Linked DNA regions of Homo sapiens: region 2 is linked to region 1. The links come from fine-mapping of genetic effects on gene expression. Tissue or cell type: whole blood. Region 1 holds a variant in brackets; the other region holds the start of a gene. All regions are shown on one strand. Distances are between the middles of the regions.

The links. PIP is the estimated chance that this variant, and not a neighbour inherited with it, causes the effect.
Region 2: KDM2B starts here. The variant in region 1 is fine-mapped to the expression of KDM2B in whole blood (TOPMed, PIP 0.99).

The regions. Positions count from the first base shown.
Region 1 is chr12:121,440,768-121,445,767 of GRCh38, reverse strand. KDM2B (lysine demethylase 2B) reads left to right here. Exons shown (of 23, transcript NM_032590.5): 14 at 350-493; 15 at 1,232-1,318; 16 at 1,496-1,756; 17 at 1,975-2,088; 18 at 2,738-2,776; 19 at 2,932-3,611; 20 at 4,535-4,698; 21 at 4,791-4,952. MIR7107 (microRNA 7107) reads left to right here and starts at 1,416; the gene lies at 1,416-1,495. The variant T/C (reference allele first, on the strand shown) is at 2,348.
Region 2 is chr12:121,579,129-121,584,245 of GRCh38, reverse strand. KDM2B (lysine demethylase 2B) reads left to right here and starts at 3,223. Exons shown (of 23, transcript NM_032590.5): 1 at 3,223-3,460. The coding sequence starts at 3,335. It overlaps KDM2B-DT (KDM2B divergent transcript), which reads right to left and starts at 3,735. Exons shown (of 4, transcript NR_183427.1): 1 at 2,983-3,735. RefSeq lists enhancers at 193-1,126, 1,127-2,062, 2,998-3,933 and silencers at 3,503-3,552, 3,633-3,942, 5,102-5,117.

The sequences.
Region 1 (5,000 bases):
CCCCTTCTGCCCCTCACTCCAGCCCTCTAATTTTTCCCCATGTCTCTGTCTCTAACATGCTCTGTCCATTTTGTCTGCCTCCCTCCACTAAAATGTAAGCTCTGGATGGCAGAGATTTTGAGCTGTCTTGTTCCTTGCTGTATCCCCAGCAATTAAGAGTAGTATCTGGCATGTGGAGGTAGTAGCCTGATACGTATTTCAATGAATGAGTGAGCGAATGTGCCTGGGCCACTTTCCGGGGGTCTCCTGGCAGGCCCAAGGGGAGCAGCTCATTGCCCTTGAACTGGCCCCCCTGGGGGTCCGTGCTCCCCACCCCTGATGACTTGTCTTGTTCTCCCTGGCTCCTCAGCCAGTGCTGCCCCACACCGCCGTGTGCCTTGTGTGTGGCGAGGCGGGGAAGGAAGACACGGTGGAAGAGGAGGAAGGCAAGTTTAACCTCATGCTCATGGAGTGCTCCATCTGCAATGAAATCATCCACCCTGGATGCCTTAAGGTGAGTGGCCCAGTGGGGACAGGTGGTGCTGACGCTCTGGGGCAGGTAGGGTTGCTGGAGATGCTGGTGAGATGGTGGGATGCAGGTCGTGCAGTGAATTCCTGGAGGACCCCTGAGTCTGGGTGATCCTGTGTGTCAAGGGATAAGCCCGGGGCAAGGAGGGCCTGGAGTACCTCAGAGACCCAGTGTCATCAAAGGAATAAACACACCCCCACCTCCCAGGATGTCAGAACCAGAGAGGGTTTCCAGAGCCTCAGCAGATGGCAAACACAGGCTGCTTGTTTGTAGCTGGGCCAGAGGAAGCGCCTCCAGGTGGCTCCAGGCTTCTGGGAGAACAAGGCCCCACACCACACTCCTTCCCCCAGCACCCAGTAGAGTCCTCTGCAGAGTCCTTTCTGCATGCCAGGCGCTGAGCTCATGGCTTTACCTGGGTCATACCCCCCCAGTGAGATGGGCACACTAACTTTTATGGCCGAGGGCACCAGCCCACAGAGACGGAGTGTCTTGCCCAGGGTCCCAGAGAAGCAAAGGGGCTCAGCCTCTGAACCCTGGCCTGGATCCACAGCTGCCCGTCTCTGCCAGCCTCTGCAGCTGTGTTTTCTTTTGCCTGGAAACGGGATAGATGTGACGTTGGGGAGGGGGTGCTGCTGCTTCTGGAAGACGTGGCGTCACAGAGCCTTGTGCCCGTGGGCCATCTTCTCCGCCCGTCCCTCTTCTGAGTCCTGGTGTTCCCCGCAGATTAAGGAGTCAGAGGGTGTGGTCAACGACGAGCTTCCAAACTGCTGGGAGTGTCCGAAGTGTAACCACGCCGGCAAGACCGGGAAAGTGAGTGCCGGGCTCCAAGTCCCAGGGTCAGTCGGGAGAGGGGCGGGCCTGGGCCTGGCCGGGACCAGCCTGTCCCAGGAGTTTCAGGCAGGTGGGTTGCCGTCGGCCTGGGGAGGAGGAAGGGCAAGTCCAAAGGTATACAGTTGGTCTGTTCATTCTCTCTTTTTGGCCTACAAGCAAAAGCGTGGCCCTGGCTTTAAGTACGCCTCCAACCTGCCCGGCTCCCTGCTCAAGGAGCAGAAGATGAACCGGGACAACAAGGAAGGGCAGGAACCTGCCAAGCGGAGGAGTGAGTGTGAGGAGGCGCCCCGGCGCAGGTCGGATGAGCACTCGAAGAAGGTGCCGCCGGACGGCCTTCTGCGCAGAAAGTCTGACGACGTGCACCTGAGGAAGAAGCGGAAATACGAGAAGCCCCAGGAGCTGAGTGGACGCAAGCGGGTACGGACCAGGAGGGGCTGGGAGGCAAAGGGGTTGGTCTGGCTGGTCCCGGGTGCTGGGTTGGAGGGATGGGGCAGGGGGTGGGCAGCAGGTAGAGCTTGGGATAATCCCGGCCTCTTGCTGCCCTGAGCAGGTCACCTAAGTCCTGAGAGCCCTGCCCCAAAGAAAGGAGGGGAAAACCAGCGAGTCACTCCTCTTCCCACTCCACCCCCCTTTAGGCCTCATCGCTTCAAACGTCCCCCGGTTCCTCCTCTCACCTCTCGCCGAGGCCCCCTCTAGGCAGCAGCCTCAGCCCCTGGTGGAGATCCAGTCTCACTTACTTCCAGCAGCAGGTGCTCCCACGACGCACGCCCTCCTGAGGCCCCGGGGACTGGCGAGTCCTGGGCTGTCCCCCACCCCACCCCGCTGGTCCTCCACCCCACTGCTGCCTCTCCTGAGGCTTCCCAGGTCTCGGCCCCAGATCTCTGGCTCGTGGTTCTGGCTTGGGGCCTGGGAAGCTGTCTGTGCCTAGAGCCTCTGTTGGTTGGGATGGAAGCTGTGAGTCCAGGGAACCTCTGAGGAGCCTGGTGGCCCTGCTCCACCCACGGGCCG[T/C]GCTGTCACCAGCCACAAGGTGGCGCCAGGAGTCTCTCCCAGCTCTAGCCATTCCTGCTGGGCCGGGGATTCCCACAGGGCTGTGCTCCAGAACTGGCTCCCAGAGCCGAGGATGATTTGAATGGGCGGCTGCACATCTCCAGGTCTGTGGGGTGGGAGGTCAGTTGGGTGGGAACAGTTCAACTGTACTCCTACTTCCAGCTTCTTCCTTGAAAGCTGCAGGCAGGGCTCGCCCGTCTGTCGGTCAGACGTGGAGATGGCATTTGTGGGGAAGGCCTCCCTCCAGCCCCTCCTCTGGAGACTGTGGACTCGTGGTGGGGTGGGGTGTCGAGGAGACCAAATCCCACGAGCCCGGGGAGCAAGCTCTGCGTCCTTTCTTTTTCGTGACAGCTCAAACCTGGCAAAGAAGATAAGCTTTTCAGGAAAAAGGTACCATCTTCCCCTCCCTCCTGTGCCCCAGGCCTGAGCGGTTAGAGCTGCACCGCAGCTCCCTGGGCCACAGTCCCGTGGCAGGGGGGCGGGAGGCCTTGGGCGGGCGCAGCCCTGAGCCCCAGAGGCTGACGCGTCTCCGCTCTCGCCCTCAGCGGCGGTCCTGGAAGAACGCCGAGGACCGCATGGCGCTGGCCAACAAGCCCCTCCGGCGCTTCAAGCAGGAACCCGAGGACGAACTGCCCGAGGCGCCCCCCAAGACCAGGGAGAGCGACCACTCCCGCTCCAGCTCCCCCACCGCGGGACCCAGCACCGAAGGGGCCGAGGGCCCGGAGGAGAAGAAGAAGGTGAAGATGCGCCGGAAGCGGCGGCTTCCCAACAAGGAGCTGAGCAGGGAGCTGAGCAAGGAGCTCAACCACGAGATCCAGAGGACGGAGAACAGCCTGGCCAACGAGAACCAGCAGCCCATCAAGTCGGAGCCTGAGAGCGAGGGCGAGGAGCCCAAGCGGCCCCCGGGCATCTGCGAGCGTCCCCACCGCTTCAGCAAGGGGCTCAACGGCACCCCCCGGGAGCTGCGGCACCAGCTGGGGCCCAGCCTGCGCAGCCCGCCCCGTGTCATCTCCCGGCCCCCACCCTCCGTGTCCCCGCCCAAGTGTATCCAGATGGAGCGCCATGTGATCCGGCCACCCCCCATCAGCCCCCCGCCTGACTCGCTACCCCTGGACGATGGGGCAGCCCACGTCATGCACAGGGAGGTGTGGATGGCCGTCTTCAGCTACCTCAGCCACCAAGACCTGTGTGTGTGCATGCGGGTCTGCAGGACCTGGAACCGCTGGTGAGCGGCGGCCTGTGTAGGGCTCTAGGTTAAGGCTCAGGCGGCACCAGGGATGGCCCGTGGTGTGTGGAGTCGCTGGCGATGCTCTTTCCTTCCAAACCCCAGTATGGCTTCATTGTGCTCCGCAAAGCGTTCCAGCTGGCTACAGCGGCCCCTCTGGTCTTGTCAGAGGAGGTGACCCCGTTTATTCCGATTTAGCTTCCTGGAGGGTGAAGTGAGGACCACGTGGAGTCCTTGGCTTCGGAGAGTTAGTCCAGGTTTCCAGCAAGGCTGCGAGTTGCAACTTCAGTCCAGCCGATATTTACCAGCTTTCTGGCCTTAGCTCTGCCTTACCCTCTTGGATGAACGGGCATGACGCCAGCTTCATGGGGGTTGTTTGGAGGAACGGCCGGTAGAGGGCGTTGTAAAGCCCATGGTAAATACTTGATGGAGGCCGGGCGCAGTGGCTCATGCCTGTAATCCTAGCGCTTTGCGGGCGGATCACTTGAAGTCAGGAGTTCAAGACCAGCCTGGCCAACAAGGTGAAACCTCATTTCTACTAAAAATAAAAAAATTAGCCGGGTGTGGTGGCGCACACCTGTAATCCCAGCTACTCGGGAGGCTGAGGCAGGAGAATAGCTTGAACCTGGGAGACGGAGGTTGTGGTGAGCAGAGATTGCACCACTACACACCAGCCTGGGAACAGAGCGAGACTCCGTCTTAATACATACATACATACTTGATGGAGAGTGGAGGCCATGGCTGTTAGAGCAGGTGGGAGGTGCCCGCGTGGGGGCAGGATAGGTGCTACATAGAGAAGGGTCCAGAGCGCTGAGTTAAGGAGCCTCCCAGAGGTTGTTAGGTGGGGACAGTTAAGAGCTGTGTGTGGGCTCCCTAGAGGAGCCCCACCTCTGACGATGTGTCCCCACGGGGCCGGTCCCCAGGTGCTGCGATAAGCGGTTGTGGACCCGCATTGACCTGAACCACTGCAAGTCTATCACACCCCTGATGCTGAGTGGCATCATCCGGCGACAGCCCGTCTCCCTCGACCTCAGCTGGACCAATATCTCCAAGAAGCAGCTGAGCTGGCTCATCAACCGGCTGCCTGGTGAGCCCTGGGCCAGTGGCCCCGAGTGTGTCTGCTGCAGTGAGGGCTGGGGACACATCCCCTGACCTTCACCCTTTTCTATGTCCCCCCAGGGCTCCGGGACTTGGTGCTGTCAGGCTGCTCATGGATCGCGGTCTCGGCCCTTTGCAGCTCCAGTTGTCCGCTGCTCCGGACCCTGGATGTCCAGTGGGTGGAGGGACTAAAGGATGCCCAGATGCGGGATCTCCTGTCCCCGCCCACAGACAACAGGCCAGGTGAGTTGCCAGGCTGGGGGTTTCTGTGGGGGTGGGGTGAGCGAGCTA
Region 2 (5,117 bases), 140 kb before region 1:
TACAGGGTCCCCCTAATCAACCTTCCACAAACATTTGTGGAATGAATGAAGGGTCCATGGGGAAAGGGGGCCAAGGATATCAGCAAAGGTTTCCTAGAAGAGGCCATCTGATTACAGTGTGAATGCTTGCAGTGTTAGCCCTTAAACCACTCTCTCTGAGTGCCTGCCAAGGGCATGGCACTGCGTAGACTCCTGGGGATACCAGTTGGATATGAGGTTGTCCCACCTGCTCAGATCTTACAAATAAACTTCTCAAGGACAAATAGTTGGTGATAGGGTAGGAATCCTGAGACGTGGATGATCACTTTCAGATATATATTCTACTGACAGACTCAAGCACAAAGCTGCAATCCCTTATAGCTCTGTTTGCAATAGAAAAAGATTGAAAACCATCTAAAAGTTAGGGAACTAATTAAATCATTCTTGCACCATTTATCTGCCCAATGAAATGCTATGAAATCATTAGAAAGAATAAGGAAACTATAGCTGATGTGCTATAGCATTCCACATATGCTGATGTGGAATGATTAGATATCCTTAAATTAAAACAAAACAGGGCCAGGTGTGGTGGCTTACGGCTGTAATCTCAGCACTTTGGGAGGCCGAGGTGGGAGGAACACTTGAGCCTAGGAGTTGGAGACCAGCCTGGGCAACACGGCAAAACCCTGTCTCTACCAAAAATACAAAAATTAGCTGGGCATGGTGGTGCACTCCTGTAGTCTCAGCTACTTGGAAGGCTAAGGTGGAGCATTGCTGAGTCCAGGAGGTGGAGGTTGCAGTGAGCTGAGATTGTGTCACTGCACTCCAGCCTGGGCAACAGAGCAAGACCCTCTCTCAAAAAAAAGAAAAGAAAAATCAGGAGTTATGATAATCATATATGAATATGAGAACAACTTCAATTTCTTATCAAGATTCTGGTTTCTGAGAGCTACATCCAGTGTCCACCCTTTCCTTGGGAAGCTGCAGGTCCATCGTCCTACCCAGCCTCGAGTATGCCCCAATCTGCATGCCCCACGCTGCATCTTCTTTTCTCTAGCCTCTCTGTCTTTGGGCACAGAGTTGCTCAATCAACCTTTGATGAATGAAGAATGAATGGGGGTAACTCAGGCAGGATTTGACTGGGCCCTTTGTAAGATCGAGCAGGAGGGTCCAGGAAATAATTATTATTATGTTTCCAATACAACCGGCCCGGTGTTTTCCTGCAAGAAAAAGTACATCTCTGGGGTAAGCACCTTCACCTTCTCTCTTCCCTTACCTACTCTCCACTTCTCTGGGACAATTAGTCAACACTGGGAGCTCCAGGGTCTTGGCCCTTCCCCCTTTGGTCCAAAATAACCTCCTCCCCCACTTTGAGCAAATGCTTGGAATTCTTTCAACTGGAGGACAAAGCCTTTCATCTGCCAATTACTGATAAAGAGAAAATGCAAATATCGAGGGGGAAGGTGATTCATCAAGGGCCCAACATTTATTGAGTGGCCACTTAGGACCCGGCAGCAGGGCAGGCATTCTGGGGGAGGCCAAGGGGAACAAACCCCCGGCTGGCCCATTCTTTTCTCGTGTTTGCGGTTTCCTCGAGGTTTGTAAAGGGGGGGGATTAAATGAGGTGACTACCCAGCCCCTTCCCACTCTGACAGGCCAGGAACTCCTCGTGGAGGTGATAGATGGACTTAACTGTTTTTATACTAAGGTGGCTGCCATTGGACCTTTTTCTGATGCCAGCTTTTGGGGCCACTATGAGGCCACTTGGAGAGAAAGAAGGGCCTCAGGGAGAAAAAAGAATTAATTAGATGAAGCATTCTATTATATATTTTTTGCTTTATTTCACTTAATTCACTTTGCGTCACTCTCCAGCCCATGCAGCCTCCTTTGAACATGTTTATTTCATTATGGGGCAGTAGTGAGGCTGGTAAGTTACTAAAAAAAAAAAAAAAAAAAAAAAAAGCACGTGATGGCCAAGCCAGGCTCCAGTGTGAGCCCTGGCAGCGGCACATACGCGCTATGTGATCCTGGGTGAGTGGCTTTGCTTTTCTTAGTCCTAATTTCCTCCTTTGCAAAATGGGAACGAACAAGACGATTTCCCTTAAAGGGTTCTTGTGAGAAAGACAGGAACAAATAAAATGGTCCATGGTTCTGGACGGACTGAAGGCAGAACCGGCAGCACTCACACGAAGGGCTACTGATTGCACGCAGCAGCCAACGTGGGCGATTTCAGTTTGGAAACAAATTTTGATGTTTCCCAGCCTCATCCCTGCTTAAAAGATTTTTACAGCTAGTGAACATGAATGAAAACAAACTTCAAAGAGTAGCCTTTGAGGATGGGTGGGAAAGACTACAGTCAGATAGGACAGGAAACTTCTAAGGTGAGTGAGGGGGAAGCTGTCTCTTAGGACGGCCAATACGATGCTGATAGTGACATCGTATCTCCTGGTGGGGAAGCCACGTCCTCCCCACAGGTCTGTCTGATAGCCTGGGGACCATATGGGAGCACAGCAATCATTCAGATTCATAATTTCTCTGAGCTTCAGTTTCCCTATCTGCAAAATGACCTGCTCCAAGTATCCCACAGGGTTATGGCAGAAATAAAATGTCAGGCTCAAAGCCTGCTATCTACAATGTCCCTTTATCGTCTCCCTCTTGCCATGTCATTTTATCAGCATCTTTACCCGCAAGATCAGGCCTAGCAGGGCGCCACAGCTGGGGCTGGAGGAATGTTTAGGGCTAGCTTTTCTCAAGCCAAGTCGACCTGACTGTTGCTCATGATGGGAGGACAAGACAACCCAGGACCAGTGCTGGGGTAGTCAAAAACACTAGTAAGTGGACAGGGACCTAATGACACCCATGTATGTACGGAGGGTGCCGATACCTCCGCTAAGAAGCCCTGTAGGGGCTTCATCAAGGGCACTAGAGTTCCCCCCACCTATCCCAGAGCACCATGCACCTTTCCACCGACTTGTCTTCTATAAACTACCAACAAGGGCTTACCCTTCGCTCCTGTGCGGGCTGCGTTAGGAGGCGCCAGATCCAATTCTCTGCGTCTTTCGCTCCTGAGCATCTATCTGCTCCCCTTGCCGAGCGCAAGAACCTTTAAAAAATGTCCAACTTCTGTTTCAGGGCTGGTCGCCTAGTAAAGGAGTCCACAGAGGCGGGCAGAATGAATGAATGAAAGGCAACGTCTTCCGGTCAGCTGCGGACTGCAAAGGCTCTGGTCTGGCTGTATTTCCTGTACGTGTGTGTGTCCACATCTTTGAGTGCCGGGAGTTTAAAAGTTAGGCAGTCCTTATAGGTATGGAAGCCGAGCTAATTTCCTTCTGAGCCCCCCAAATGCCTCCTCCACATGGCGGGTCCGCAAATGGGGGGATCTGCAGAGGATCACCCCCCACGAAAAAGACATGCAGCAGAAAAGCAAAAAAAGAAAACAGTTATATATACAAAATGCTTTGAATTTGAGTCGGCCACACAGGTAATGTTGGGGGAGGGGTGGATGAAAGAAGAGGAAGAGGGGTAGCCCTGGGCAATGAGGGCAGGAACGGAGGTGGGGGGTCGTTTTTGGGGGTGCCAGGCCCCGGGGGCTTTCACGCCAGCATGCTCGGCTTGCATTTCCGCGCCTCCCGCTGAGGCCAGCCGTGCAAATCTGCACCTCCCTCCCCGCCCCCTCCTCCTTCCCTCCCTCCCTGCCCCGCCATCTCCGGGATGCGCCCGCCGCCTGCAACTCGGCCCTCCAAAAGTCAGCTCTGCACACAACTCCCGGGCGGCGGCGGCGCCTGCGTGCAGAGGCGCACTCGTGACCCAACAACAAAACAGCGATGCCACGGCGCTAACGGCGCCCGGTGCCTCCCGGGCTCCCTCCCCGCCCCATACCTCCTCGGGCCGCCGCCCCCACCCCCCCAAGCCCGGGCCGAGAGCCCCCCCAAATAGCCCGGCCGCGGGCTCCGAGCGCGATCGGCAACAATGTTTACGTTCCGGGGATTATGACGTCGACGCCTCCCCCCCCCCACAACTGCTGAAAATGGTTTCCTAGGACTTTGCAAACGGATCTGCCTAAGTGTTGGTGCAAAACTTTGTAGATCTCGGCTCTGGCTTGCTTTATTTATTTATTTTTTGGTTTGTTTTCTTTGGTCTTCCCTCCTTCCCCCCTCGGCCAAAATGCAGGGGGCAGGAGTGTTGACAATTAATTGGTGAACTCTCCTAAAAAAATGGAGGCAGAGAAAGACTCTGGAAGAAGATTGGTGTGTAGCTTTTTTTTTTTTTTTTTTTTTCCAAATCTGTATCTGGCATATGATAGATCTTTTTTTTTTTTTTTTTGGTTGTTTCTCGCTGCCTTTTCTTTCCTTTTCTGTATTTTGCAAGAGGACCGGGAAAAAAATATAATAAATTGCATGCAAAAGGAAGCAAGCTGCTTACTCCTCCAGCCCCTTGTGAGGCTTAGAGTCTCAGACACTTAAGTGGGGAGGTGGTATCGGGGAAAGGCGTGGAGGGGGGCTGAGCGGGCTCGGGGTTCGCCCGGAATCTGGGGGGCTGAGGGGCCGGGCGCTGGGCGGTGGAGGGAGGAGGCAGGGGGATGCGGGGAGTGGTGGGGGAGTCTCCTTAGGAAGTGAGTGTGCGCGCGCGCTTGTGGGGAGATGAGGCAGCTGCTGGTGCGTTTTGGGGTCTCCGATCCGAGCTTTGTGGCGGGCCGTCTGCCTCTCCCCCTTCCAAGCCCCGATTCTCCTCCCCCCACCTCCTCTTCTTGCACTGGCGGGCGGGCGGCGGGGGCGGCTGGGGTCTCAGCCCTTCCATTTCAGCTTTCCAGCTTCCCCGGTAGCTCGGGGGCGGCTCCAGCTTTAGAAATGCCGCCGGCCCCCGGTTCCGGCTTCCCGGCTCTGCCGCCGCGGCCGCTGGGGCTGCTGTTACCGCCGAGCCGGGCGCCGCAGCGGCTCCTCCTGGGGCCTACATTTGCCCCGCCAGCCCGTGTCCGGAGCCCCCTTCGCGGGTTACATAACCAGGCTCCCGGCCGAGTGGGCGAAGCCCAGCACATTTCGGGGGCGGGGGGCAGGGGAGGGTCCCCAGATGTCCCTTCAGTGCTTCCGAAGACACCGGAGGGGAGTACCCCGCGTAGAGCGCAGCTGGACCCTCGGGGT